Homo sapiens: one gene and its partners. The protein of the gene in region 1 interacts with the protein of each later gene in a pairwise test. Each region holds a gene or a part of one and is shown in the gene's direction. Other genes may lie near its edges.

What was found.
Region 2: the proteins of AKAP1 (region 1) and DYSF interact in a two-hybrid assay, tested with the Homo sapiens proteins (one large-scale study listed by BioGRID and IntAct).
Region 3: the proteins of AKAP1 (region 1) and CELF1 interact in a two-hybrid assay, tested with the Homo sapiens proteins (one large-scale study listed by IntAct).

The regions. Positions count from the first base shown.
Region 1 is NC_000017.11:57,088,097-57,091,745, forward strand, and holds part of AKAP1 (A-kinase anchor protein 1, mitochondrial precursor), read left to right. Parts: intron 1-3,649.
Region 2 is NC_000002.12:71,473,144-71,476,792, forward strand, and holds part of DYSF (dysferlin), read left to right. Parts: intron 1-3,649. UniProt on the Homo sapiens protein: Key calcium ion sensor involved in the Ca(2+)-triggered synaptic vesicle-plasma membrane fusion.
Region 3 is NC_000011.10:47,466,018-47,469,666, reverse strand, and holds part of CELF1 (CUGBP Elav-like family member 1), read left to right. Parts: 3' UTR 1-3,649. UniProt on the Homo sapiens protein: RNA-binding protein implicated in the regulation of several post-transcriptional events. Involved in pre-mRNA alternative splicing, mRNA translation and stability.

The DNA.
Region 1 (3,649 bases):
ACTGTTTGAGAGTTGCTCATCTTTATGGTGGGGGGTGTATTTTAGTCCTAAATCTTGCTTCTTAGGGCAAGTTCTGTTTCTTCCATGTTCCTTCCTGGTGTAATACCTCAGGCAGTTTTCACTTTTATGATCATTTAACATTAAGTTCCCATCACATGTGGCATCCCACTGAAGGAACCTCCTGGCCTTGGTACCTAATTTGAAGCTTGGGCTGTGGAAAACATCATCAGTGAGCATGTTTGAAGTAGGACAGAGTCTGGCTGGAGAAACAGGTAGTGGGGGAGCTGGGAGCTAAACTTGAGAGGATGCCTCTTTCTTGATAGTTACTGTGCTAGGTGAGTTATGAGCACACTAATCCTTTAATCCTCACACCTCTGAGAACAGTGAGGGTGAAGCTGGAGGTCATTCTGGATTGTTTCAGTGGCTGTCACACAAATTCAAATTGAGGGGTAGAGGAACTAGGAAGCGTGGGTGTGGAGTTAAAACTAGGTCCTCTGGATGGCTTTTGTGAGAAGAACCAAGGAATATTCTTAAATCCCTGGGCTTTTCTCCTAATCTTTCTGCTGCTTTCTAAGTAGATTGTTAACATTGTGTGTGTTATCATTCAGCATTCTGAGAACTAGCTTTCCAGCAATAAATAGCTTTCAAGGTGTCCTTTGCCTTAACTTTTTCATTTTACTAAATGGTGCAGCCTTGTCCACATTCTGTCCGGGTCTTCACCATCTGGTTGTTTTTCCGGCTTGGTTTGATAGTTTGCAGCAGTCAGTGGTAAACATTGTGTTCCCTGTTCTGTAATGGTGGCTGGTTGTGTTCACCGAGCCAGGTGTCACTAAGGCCCAGTTGCACTTGGGAGCAAAGAAGGGCCCTGAGGTGAGTCCTGGAAGTAAAAATATGTATAACCTAGGGCTGATGAGGCTTGTTTCACTGCTGGGCTTAGCTGACAAGAGCCTGGGACTTGCTGCAGCTCTCAGAGCTGAAACCTGGCGGTGATTCTAGGCAGGCTGGTTGGCCTTCCAGATCTTGGTTTATTCAGTGGCTAAAAGAGGTTTGGTCAAAATTATCAGTATTCAGATTATGGTCCTGGGAGCCTTGGAGTTAGACCAAACGTGCCCAGGGGCCACTGGAGTGATGTGTTTGGGCTGGGGAGCACAGCTCAATGGGTAGTACATGTCAAAGACTTAAGGGGAAAAAAAACAACTCACTGTTCATCTCAAGTTCTTAGCTCTAAGGTGTGCTACTGTTCTAAATATTTTTTATTTTTAAAGATAGCTTTATTTGCCTAAATTTGTCCTGGGTGTGGGGAGTTTAGAGCTGCCTTGTCTGTAGGGTAGCTGCTAGCTGTGTGACTAATTAAACTTTTCAAAGTATTTTTAAAAAAATTTCTTAGTGACATTAGCCACATTTCAGGTTCTCAGTGGCCTCGTGTAGCTAGTGGCTGCCGTCCTGGTCAGTACAGGTCAAGAACATTTTCCATAATCGAAGAAAGTTTTGTTGGACAGCGCCGGCCTAGAAAGTTTTTTTTTCTCCAACTCTAAAAGCTTAATTGTCTCAACTTGTAAATCTCTAAAGCATAACATGTTTGAGCTTAGTCTTCCAGAGTCCATAAACCCAACAGCTTTGGTGACAAATTATCTACTGGTTGTCTCCATGGCATACTACAAGTGAGTTCTAGTCTGCCAGTTGGGAGTGGACGAACAGTTTTGAAACAGTTTGAGTGAGGACCTTCAGAAAGGACCTGGGGACAGGAGCGTGAAGCAAAGGTCCAGATGCTAAGCCCTTAGAAAGCCCTTTTGGTTTGAAGCCGTTTATTATCATAAAGATCCCTGCTGGTTTGTCCTTGGTCTCCAAATGTCAGATGTCAACATATTGTTACTTGGTCCTTCACCCACCTGATGACTTCCTACAGATCTCAGTGCGGCCCTTCTCTTAAACGAGGTTGTGTTTTCATTCTGCTGTTTCCAGTCCACCTAAATGTTAGGGGCCATTCTTCACAGAAGGTGTTGGGGGAGAGTGGGGCCACAGCGTGGATGCTAACGTGTTCTGTTGTGGCAGGGGTGGGGAGTTCTTTGTTTCCAGATGCCCCCTCTTCTAGTCCTGGGTGTGCTTTGTTTGAACCCTGCTAGATTGACCTTTGGTATATATAATGTGAGATCTCTTTTCTTGGAGCCAGGCAGCATAAAGGACACTTACTGATGAGCACCTACTGGCATATTAGTGGCTTTTTTTTTTCTGTGTCATTTTTATTCTCTGTCAGCCCTATGAGGTTAGTACAGTGATTAGTTTGTGGGTGAAGAAACAAGATCCGAGTAGAGTAAACTGGTCCCTGGACACAGCAAGGGCTGGACTGGCTTGGACCTGGGCTGGGGCGTGCTCCCCACCTCCTCCTCTGCCCCTGCCGCCCCCCATGCTCATTGGTTGTTGCTTATTTACTGCCCCTTTATCACCACATCCTCATTCAGGAAACTAAACTGGGTTTTACAAAGATTAAAATCATTGATCCCACATATGGAGTCTGACTTAAGTGTGTTCAGCCTCGTTACAACTCTGTGAGGGAGATATTCCCTATTACAGAACATCTTCATTTTATGGGAAACTGAAGTACAGGATCCTACTCTTAACTCTCTTGTCTTTCCAAAGCCATATTTTATCATCAGAATTATGCAACCATCGGGTGCTTTTGAAATGCACAAGTAATGACTATGAATAAAAAAAGCTGTGCCTGAGGGCTCAGGGAAACTGCTCTGAAGACTGAGCTGATTGAAAAAGACAATCCTGAAGTCACTAATTTCCCGACACCTGTCAGACCTCACTTGGAGGTCACAGACCATCTCCTGGCCCTCCAAAGGCTGTCACCCAGCAGTAGCTGGCCTCCTGATTAGAGGAGGCAGTAAGATCTTTTCAAGCACAGCCCCAGCCCCCATCCCTTCTCTGGCCTGGGCCTGGATGTGCCTTTGTGAGGTTGGGTCGATGACAGATCTGAAGGACAGTTCAGTCTTCTGTACACTCCTTCTTGCCCCTCCTTTCTGCCACTCCCAAGAAAAAGGAGCAGGAGTGATTCTCACTTTCCTGAACTGCCTTGGAGGGAGACCCACACTCAGCTGTGCCTTTAGCTGTCTCTGGGAGAAAAGGCCGTGCTGCAAATAACCTCCCTGCTTTGTCCTTTGGCTTTGGTGTGGCTCACCTGGCCAAGCATGTGCTGGTGCTATTTTTAGCAGGTGGCATCCTTTAGGAGGGCCAAGTGCATGTGGCTGCAGTGTACGGGACAGGTCCTGGTGCCAAAGCTGCTGCTGTCTCTGCTGCCACCGCCTCGTCAGGAGAGAGAGGAGAATAAAGCCACCCTGGAAGCTGCCAAGGGGTGTGTGGAGGGGGTGGCTGCTTAAGAGGTCTCCAGGGCTGCCTTTTCTATTCTGGATCTGTGGCAGGGGCCCAGCCTGCCTCCTGGTGCAGGCAGGCATGTGACTGAGGCAGCCCGGGGAGCTGGGGAGCTGGGGAGCTAGGTGTCAGACTGCTGCCTGGGGAGTGAGGACCCCTTGTTGCCCCAGCAGGCAATTTTTCAGGAAACCACATAACCCCATTAAAAACATTATTTATTTATTTATTTATTTATTTAGAGATGAGGTCTTGCTTTGTCACCCAGGCTAGAGTACAG
Region 2 (3,649 bases), on another chromosome or scaffold:
CAGTTCTTGGGGTGTCCAGGCCTGAGAACACCATGGCAGGGCAGGTGTCAGAATGACCATCTACCTCTGCTTTTTGTTTGGGGGTGTCTGTACCAAGAGGTAATACAGGCCTTCCTTCAGCCCACGCTAGGGCCATCTTTTCTCCTTTCACTTGCTGCTGCCTTTGGGTTTTCTGCTGATTCTTTGAATTTCTGTCACTTTCTTGGTCTTATGTGTATTCTAATGGGGCCGTCAAGAAACGCCCTGCACAAAGTAAGCCCTCAATAAATATCTGGGGGATAAGCAAGAGTCTGCATCTAGGCTGCTGCAGGATCCAAAGCCCCCTGCAGCTTCTGAGAGTAACTCCTGTTGCCTGACTCATGGGCAGATGCAGCTGTCTCTCTGTCTCTCTCACTGGGAGTCTGAGACACCGCAACTCCTCTCCTTCTCTCTGTCCCCTCTCTAGGAGGGACATCCGAGACTGGGAGACATCTTCTGCTCCTCCTGCTTCCCATTCGCCAAGCCGATACTGGCCAGTAGACCTCAGGCCCACCACCTGTGTCCATTCCATTTCCCACCTGGACTTAAAAAAAATTGTGGTAAAATGCACATAACATGAAATGTACCATCTTAGCCATTTTTAAGTATACAGTTCTGTGGCATTAATCATTGTGCAGTTATCACCATCTCCAGAACTTGTCATCCTCCCCAGCTGAAACTCTATACCCATTGAACACTAACTCCCTATTCCCCTCCCTCACCGCCCCTGGTAATTGCAGTTCTACTTTCTGTATGATTTTTTTTTTTTTTTTTTTTTTTTTGAGACAGAGCTTTTCTCTTGTTGCCCAGGCTGGAGAGCAATGGTGTGATCTTGGCTCACCACAACCTCTGCCTCCCGGGTTCGAGTGATTCTCTTCCCTCAGCCTCCCGAGTAGCTGGGATTACAGGCATGTGCCACCACGCCTGGCTAATTTTGTATTTTTAGTAGAGACAGGGTTTCTCCATGTTGGTCAGGCTGGTCTGGAACTCCTGACCTCAGGTGATCCACCCGCATCCACCTCCCAAAGTGCTGGGATTACAGGCGTGAGCAACCATGCCCAGCCGATTTTGACTACCCTAGGTACCTCATATAAATGGAATCACACACTATTTGTCTTTTTGTAACTGGCTGAGTCACTCAGTCTAGAGGAACCCTCAGGGTTTCATCATGAATCTTACACCTGTTGCTGGTCCCCAGTTCCTCAGAGCAGTTTGGGAAGAGGGCATGGCCCCCTTTCCTCACCCAGCATAAGCTGTGAGCTCTCCTGTATCTTCAACTTCTGTTAAATTACATGCATAAAGCCACATCTCTCAAGGCCTAAATTAATAATCAGGAACAGGGCAGGCCAAAATCCATGATGAGGAACTATTTTCTTAACAGTTTCCTAATTATCAATGTGCCTTCCCTTTTCTTGGTGCCTGTAAATCACGTGATTGTGCTTAGTGAATGTTTCGTTTCTTTCTTTCTCCTCTTTGGGGCTGCAGCACCCATGAGTGACCCCTTCCTTCATGTTACCCAGAGGGTCCCAGAGTTGGCCCTTCTAACCAGGACTTAGTGAAATCTCATTGAGAGCTTTTATTCTCCTCATCTACAGGGAAGGTAGGAAGTGGAAAATGATTAAAAGATATTTAGCACAGGGCTTGGCACACAGATATCGCTCAGTTAAGGAAGCCTGGAGCACCAGGAAATGAGTTTCCAAGTGTGCAACTCATGAGAGGCTGCAGATGGAATTTTCCATGTTACTCCTGTAGGTCACAGGAAGCTGATCTGTGATAGGGGAGGGGAAGTGGACACGTAGCTTGCATCTCAGGCCCCCTCAGAACCCTGTGCAGCAGACACTTTTATTATGATCCACTGATTGCTGAGGAGCAAGGCCTAGAGGTTATGAGTCCTCCCTAAGGTCACATAGTAGTGGCTGTTAGTTGAGTGACTCCAAAGCGGTGTGTCTGACTCCTGCTGGAGCCACACCAATATGGGCCACACAGAATTCAAAGTGGTTCAGCCAGGACCCTTCCCCCACATGGCGCCTCCTTTCTTCCTCCCTCCGCTGACAAACAGCCACACCATGAATGAAGTCTTGGGGCGTTCCCTGGAAACAGCGCTTCTATCCTCTTGTGAGGAAGTCAACTTGCAGTCAACGTGGAAAGAAAAGGACCCATTCATTCAGCACCCGATTACTGGCCACCTCGCTATAGACTAGGGTTACAGTTAGTAATGTGAGTAAGGCATGGTGTTTGCCGCCAGAAACTCCCAGCCCAGTTGGGGGTTCAGAGCTAGAAGCACACTGCTACACGGCTGTCCTGCACATGTGGTCACAGCATGGTTAGGGAGCACCAAAGAGAGATCAGCTACCTCTTTTGGGAGAGTCAGGGGAGTCTTACCAGAGGAGAGACAACCGTGCTGGGTATTGAAGAGTCAGTAGGAGTTCACTAGATCCATCAGAGTGGGCACAGAGGGGAGGGCAGGGGAAGGAAACTCACATGTAATCAGCATACTATGTGCCAGGCACCTCAACGTTCTATCTCGGTAATTTTCACAGCAACCCCTTGTAAGGTAGATATTATGATGATGAAATTGAGGCAGAAATGTTAAATGAATTTCCTAAGAGATTATTTTATTTTTTAGAGACAGGGTCTTGCTCTGTTGCCCAGGCTGGAGTGCAGTGGTACGACCACAGCTCACTGCAGCCTCAAACTCCTGGGCTCAAGCAACCCTCCCACCTCAGCATCTCGAGTAGCTGGGACCGCAGGCACATGCACCACTACACCTGGCTAATTTTGTAAATTTTTTGTAGAGATGGAGCCCCACTATATTGCCCAGGTTAGTCTTGAACTCCTGTCCTCAGGCGATCCTCCCACCTCAGCCTCCCAAACTGCTGGGATTACAAGTGTGAGGACCTCACTGGCCCCTAAGAAGTTCTTAAAGTGTTGTACATGGAACTTGGGGGGATCCTCAAGACTCTTTGAGCAGGTCAGAAGGTCAAAACTCCTTCACAACAACACTAAGAGGCTATCTGCCTTTTTTACTGTTTGGACATTTGTACTGATGGTACAACAGCAATGGCAGCTAATACTACTGGCACCTGATCACTAATCGAGGCCTTGGCAGGCTGGGTGTGGTGGCTCACACCTGTAATCCCAGCATTTTGGAAGGCCGAGGTGGGCAGACCACCTGAGGTCAGGAATTTGAGGCCAGCCTGGCCAACATGGTCAGGCTAAAAATACAAAAATTAGCCAAGCTAGGTGGTAGGCACTTGTAGTCGCGGCTACTCGGGAGGCTGAGGCATGAGAATCGCTTGAACCTGGGAGGCAGGGGTTGCAGTGAGCCGAGATCACACCATCACACTCCAGCCTGAATGACTGGAGTGAGACTCCATCTCAAGAAAAAAAAAAAAAGGCCTTGGCACTAAATTGTGCTTCTTGTTGTGTTTTTTAGATTGCATGCACTCACAGTTAAAAATAAAAAGGCAGTTTCATTTAAGAGTGTCCTTGATGAAGCAGTAAAAGGATTAGTTTGAATCCTCCTGTACATGTGTTGAGAATGTTCTGTGTGATGAAATGGGAAGTATGCATAGTGCACCTCTGCTGCACATCACAAAATGATGATTGTCTCCAGGAAAAGCACTGGAGT
Region 3 (3,649 bases), on another chromosome or scaffold:
CTGTTCTCTCCTCCCCCTGCCCAGTGAGTTAGCACAGCAGTAGCACTGCCCTTGAGCACAGTTCTTTCCCCAGGCCAAAGATGGTTTTGTGAAGAAGCTGCTCCCCTACAAGTCTCACGTGTGAAAGGGCTCAGCTCAGAGTGGAGACTCGCTGTCAAGTCTTAAGCAATCCTTTTCTGTTGTGTGAAGGTTTCACTTACAATGTGTTTTCTGCTGTAGTTTTGTTTCTTACTTGGGTTACATCATGAAATTGATTTGCCTTGAATGCAGCCAGACCACTGTCTCCTGGGTTCCCCTTGAGTGGCCAGGGCCTGGATGGAAGCTAAGAGCTTGGATTTCTGGGAACAAAGGGCCATCCCCATAAGATTGAGCAGAAATTCTGGTCCTCTTCCCTGAAAAATTTTCCCCACCCCAGCCAGCATCTTCTGCTTCCCCTTGGGTTGTGACCAGGGAGTGGGGAGAGAGGCTGAGGCTCTGCTCCCCTGGAGACCTTCTCTTAGGAGTTGGGTGCTTCATGGAAAATCCAAGCCTTAGGTTCCCTTCTGTCTCTGGCAATTAGATGTGTTCTTGGTGTCCTCCATGTCCTTTTTGACTTTTCCCTGTGTCCATTGTTAGCATGTGCAAAAGTTCCCTGTCATTACCCAACCCCTGCCCGCCCACCTCATTTCAGGGCTGTACACACAGTGAGTGTTCCTGTTCTCTCTCTCTTTGTTTGGATGTATTGCTCTGTGTAACTCAGTGGGTCTCCCTCTTTCTGGTTTGTTTTTTTTTCTAGATTCCTGCCGTTTGTTCATCGTTGTGCCTAAAGCATGTCGATGTGGCGTCAAGTACATCGTCCAAATCCCTGTCTCTTCAGCTTCTCTGATGCTTGAACTCTCACCTTTGACCTTGTGTTGACCTTTGATGCTGATGTGTATTTTTATTATGTTTGTTTCTTTCTTCGTTTTTTTTTCTTTTTTTCTTTCCTTTTTTTTTCCTTTTGTGCTGCCAAATTGGTTTTGCTAGAACGACTGCTGAAGGGGAAATATTTAAACTTGCATTTGAATATAAAAAAAATCTATTTTTCTAGAACTTCATAAGATAACCACTTGATTTTGTGATTCCAATTCTTTGTAATTGTCTTCAGAGCAGCCCTACTAGCACATACCGCGTGGTGTTTGTATTTCTGTGAACACACAGCCAGTCCGTTTCTAGGCTTTGTTTCTCTGTGTGCTTAGTTTTAAAGACAACTTTGAAGTAAACAATGAAATAAAAGATGTCACTAAAACCTCTGAGGCTCCTGAGCACATTTTGCTGATACAGTCTGTGGGGCTTGAGGAGACCGCATGTATTGTTCTTTCTTTTGTTTTTCTTCTGAGTTCTCAACTGCGGAGAGCACCTGAACCCCCTTTCCTTTTTGACCGCAGGCTGCACTTTGGGCCCCAGCCAGCCCTTTTTCTTTTTCTTTTTCTTTTGTGGTTCTTCCCTGGAGCGACTCTGGGGAGTCCTGGATATCCCGCCTGCCCCTTCCCCTCAGCCCCATGCTTGTTCCAACAGTCTCCACAGCAAAATGTGATGCTTTGATTTTTTTGTTGTTGTTTTTGTTTTTGTATTGTTTTTGTGTTTTTGTTTTGAATTTTTTCCTTTCCTACTAAGATTATGCCCAGAAAAAAGTTTTGCATGTTTCCTGCTGTTTCTTCACACCTTCGTATATATCACCTTCACCTCTCTGTTTTCTATAGTTTGTGCAAAAACTGATCGATTTAAAAGGGTTTCAAAGAAGCTGTTTTAAATTGTTGTAGGGTTGATTATTTTTTTCAAGATTGTATTGTTTAATTTTGAAGTGGCAACTTTCTCCTCTATTGCCCTTAGAGCGTTTGCCTGTGCACTTAGACTGTCACTTCGTGTGGCCTCCAGGTCTTACCGGGGCTTCCGGGAGGCTGGCTGCTTTGCTCAGAGAGGGTGGGAAGGGGGCCTGGAGAGACACGAGAAGCAGAGGTAGAGCCTAGAAGGTGGCAGCAGGTGGGTAAGAGGCTTATTTAGCACATTAGGGGCAGTGAGCACCTGGAGGAAGGAGGGCGCTCCCAATCACCCGTAGGAGGCCATCTGCACACCAAGCGGCAATTCACCTGCTGGCGCTTTTCCTAGGTGACAAGCACAATACTACAGTCTTCACACTGTTTACAGCCCTGGGCACCAGCCACCCGGCACTGGCTCTTCATCACAGCTCTGCTCTTGCTTAGCTAGTGGGGTGGGGGAAAGGGCAGGGATTTGTTTTTTTAATTGGGTGGAGAGCCAAACAGCTACTGTCCCTGGGTGCCAAGCAAGCCAGTTTTTTGGTTCCCTGAGGGAAACTGACCCTCCTCTCTTGTGGCACCATCCAGCCTCAGGGTCTTGGAGACTTGAGTAAGAATGTGAGTGGAGGGGGAGAGGTGAGGAGAGGAGCACAGGGTGGATCTGTGGAGGGAAGAGGTTACAGGGGGAGGAGCTGATGATAGATCCCACCCAGACTTAAGCTGCTGGTGGGTGGGTGAGCTGGGAAGTAGGACTGTCCAGGGAAGGGTGGAGAGATGTAGCTAGGGGCTGGGGAGGGGGAGGTGGAAGCGCTATTGAGCATCCTCCACACCAAGGTTGATGAAGGAAGGGATCCCAGCAGGGTTTCTGCTCTGGGGCTGGCAGGTTGCCTGGTATTATGCCCAAGGCCGCTCTGCCTGGGGGAAAGGGCAGCCAGGCAGAGGCCCAGTGTCTGGTAGGCTGCTGAATTTCCTGGAAGGGGTGATTGGATGGAAAGAGGCCAGAAACCCCAGCCTGAGAGACTGCTGTGCACCCCACAGTCTGACTGCACAGAGCCGCCTCTGTTGGCAGGAGGCACTGAGGCTCCCCTTCCTGTGTATTGAGAAGCAGTGTTTGCCAATATATTTTGCTTTCAATTCCAAGAGGAGCTCTGGGAAAACCTGTGGATAAAACCAAATGCCAAATGTTGGACGTTGTTTCCTTTTCCTTTTCTCTCTCTGATTGTTTTAATTGTTCTGTGGTGGTTTTAATGGATTTGAGACCCTGGAGCGGCAGCTGCCTTTCTGATTTCCAGCTGCTTTTTGTGAATAATTTAAAAAGAAAAAAAAAAAGAAACTTTACATTTTGGAGACAAACCTGTGTGAGTTTTTTATTGGTACAAACGTTGTATTTAACACTAGGGGTTTTGTACAGTTTTTTGCCTTTTCTACTAGAAAACAATGTAAAGTGATTTCACAATGTGAAGAGAAAAAAAAATTGCCACTATGACCAAACGCACAGTCTGTTCTGCAGCAACAACGGGATTCAATCAACTCAGTCGTGATTCAGCCGTAGAAATGCTTTTCCTTTATCTTGTTTGAGCTTTTCCTTTCTTTCCTGTTTTGATTTGCAAAAGAAAATGTCTTTTTTGTGTGAACTTGTGTTGTACTCTGTAGAAAATTATGGATTTTACTTTAATGGTTTAAAAAAAGGCAAGGAGAGCCCTCGTCGCTTTTCTTACCTAATCACAGAGTTTGTGTAGTGAATTTAAAAAGAAAAAAAAATTGTTATAAGTTTGGAGCAAGGGAGTATGTGTTTCAAAGGAATCTCCTTCCTTTTTTTGTGTGTTTTTCCTTTTGTCCCAATGGGGAACCTAAATCTGTTTTAATTGCACAGA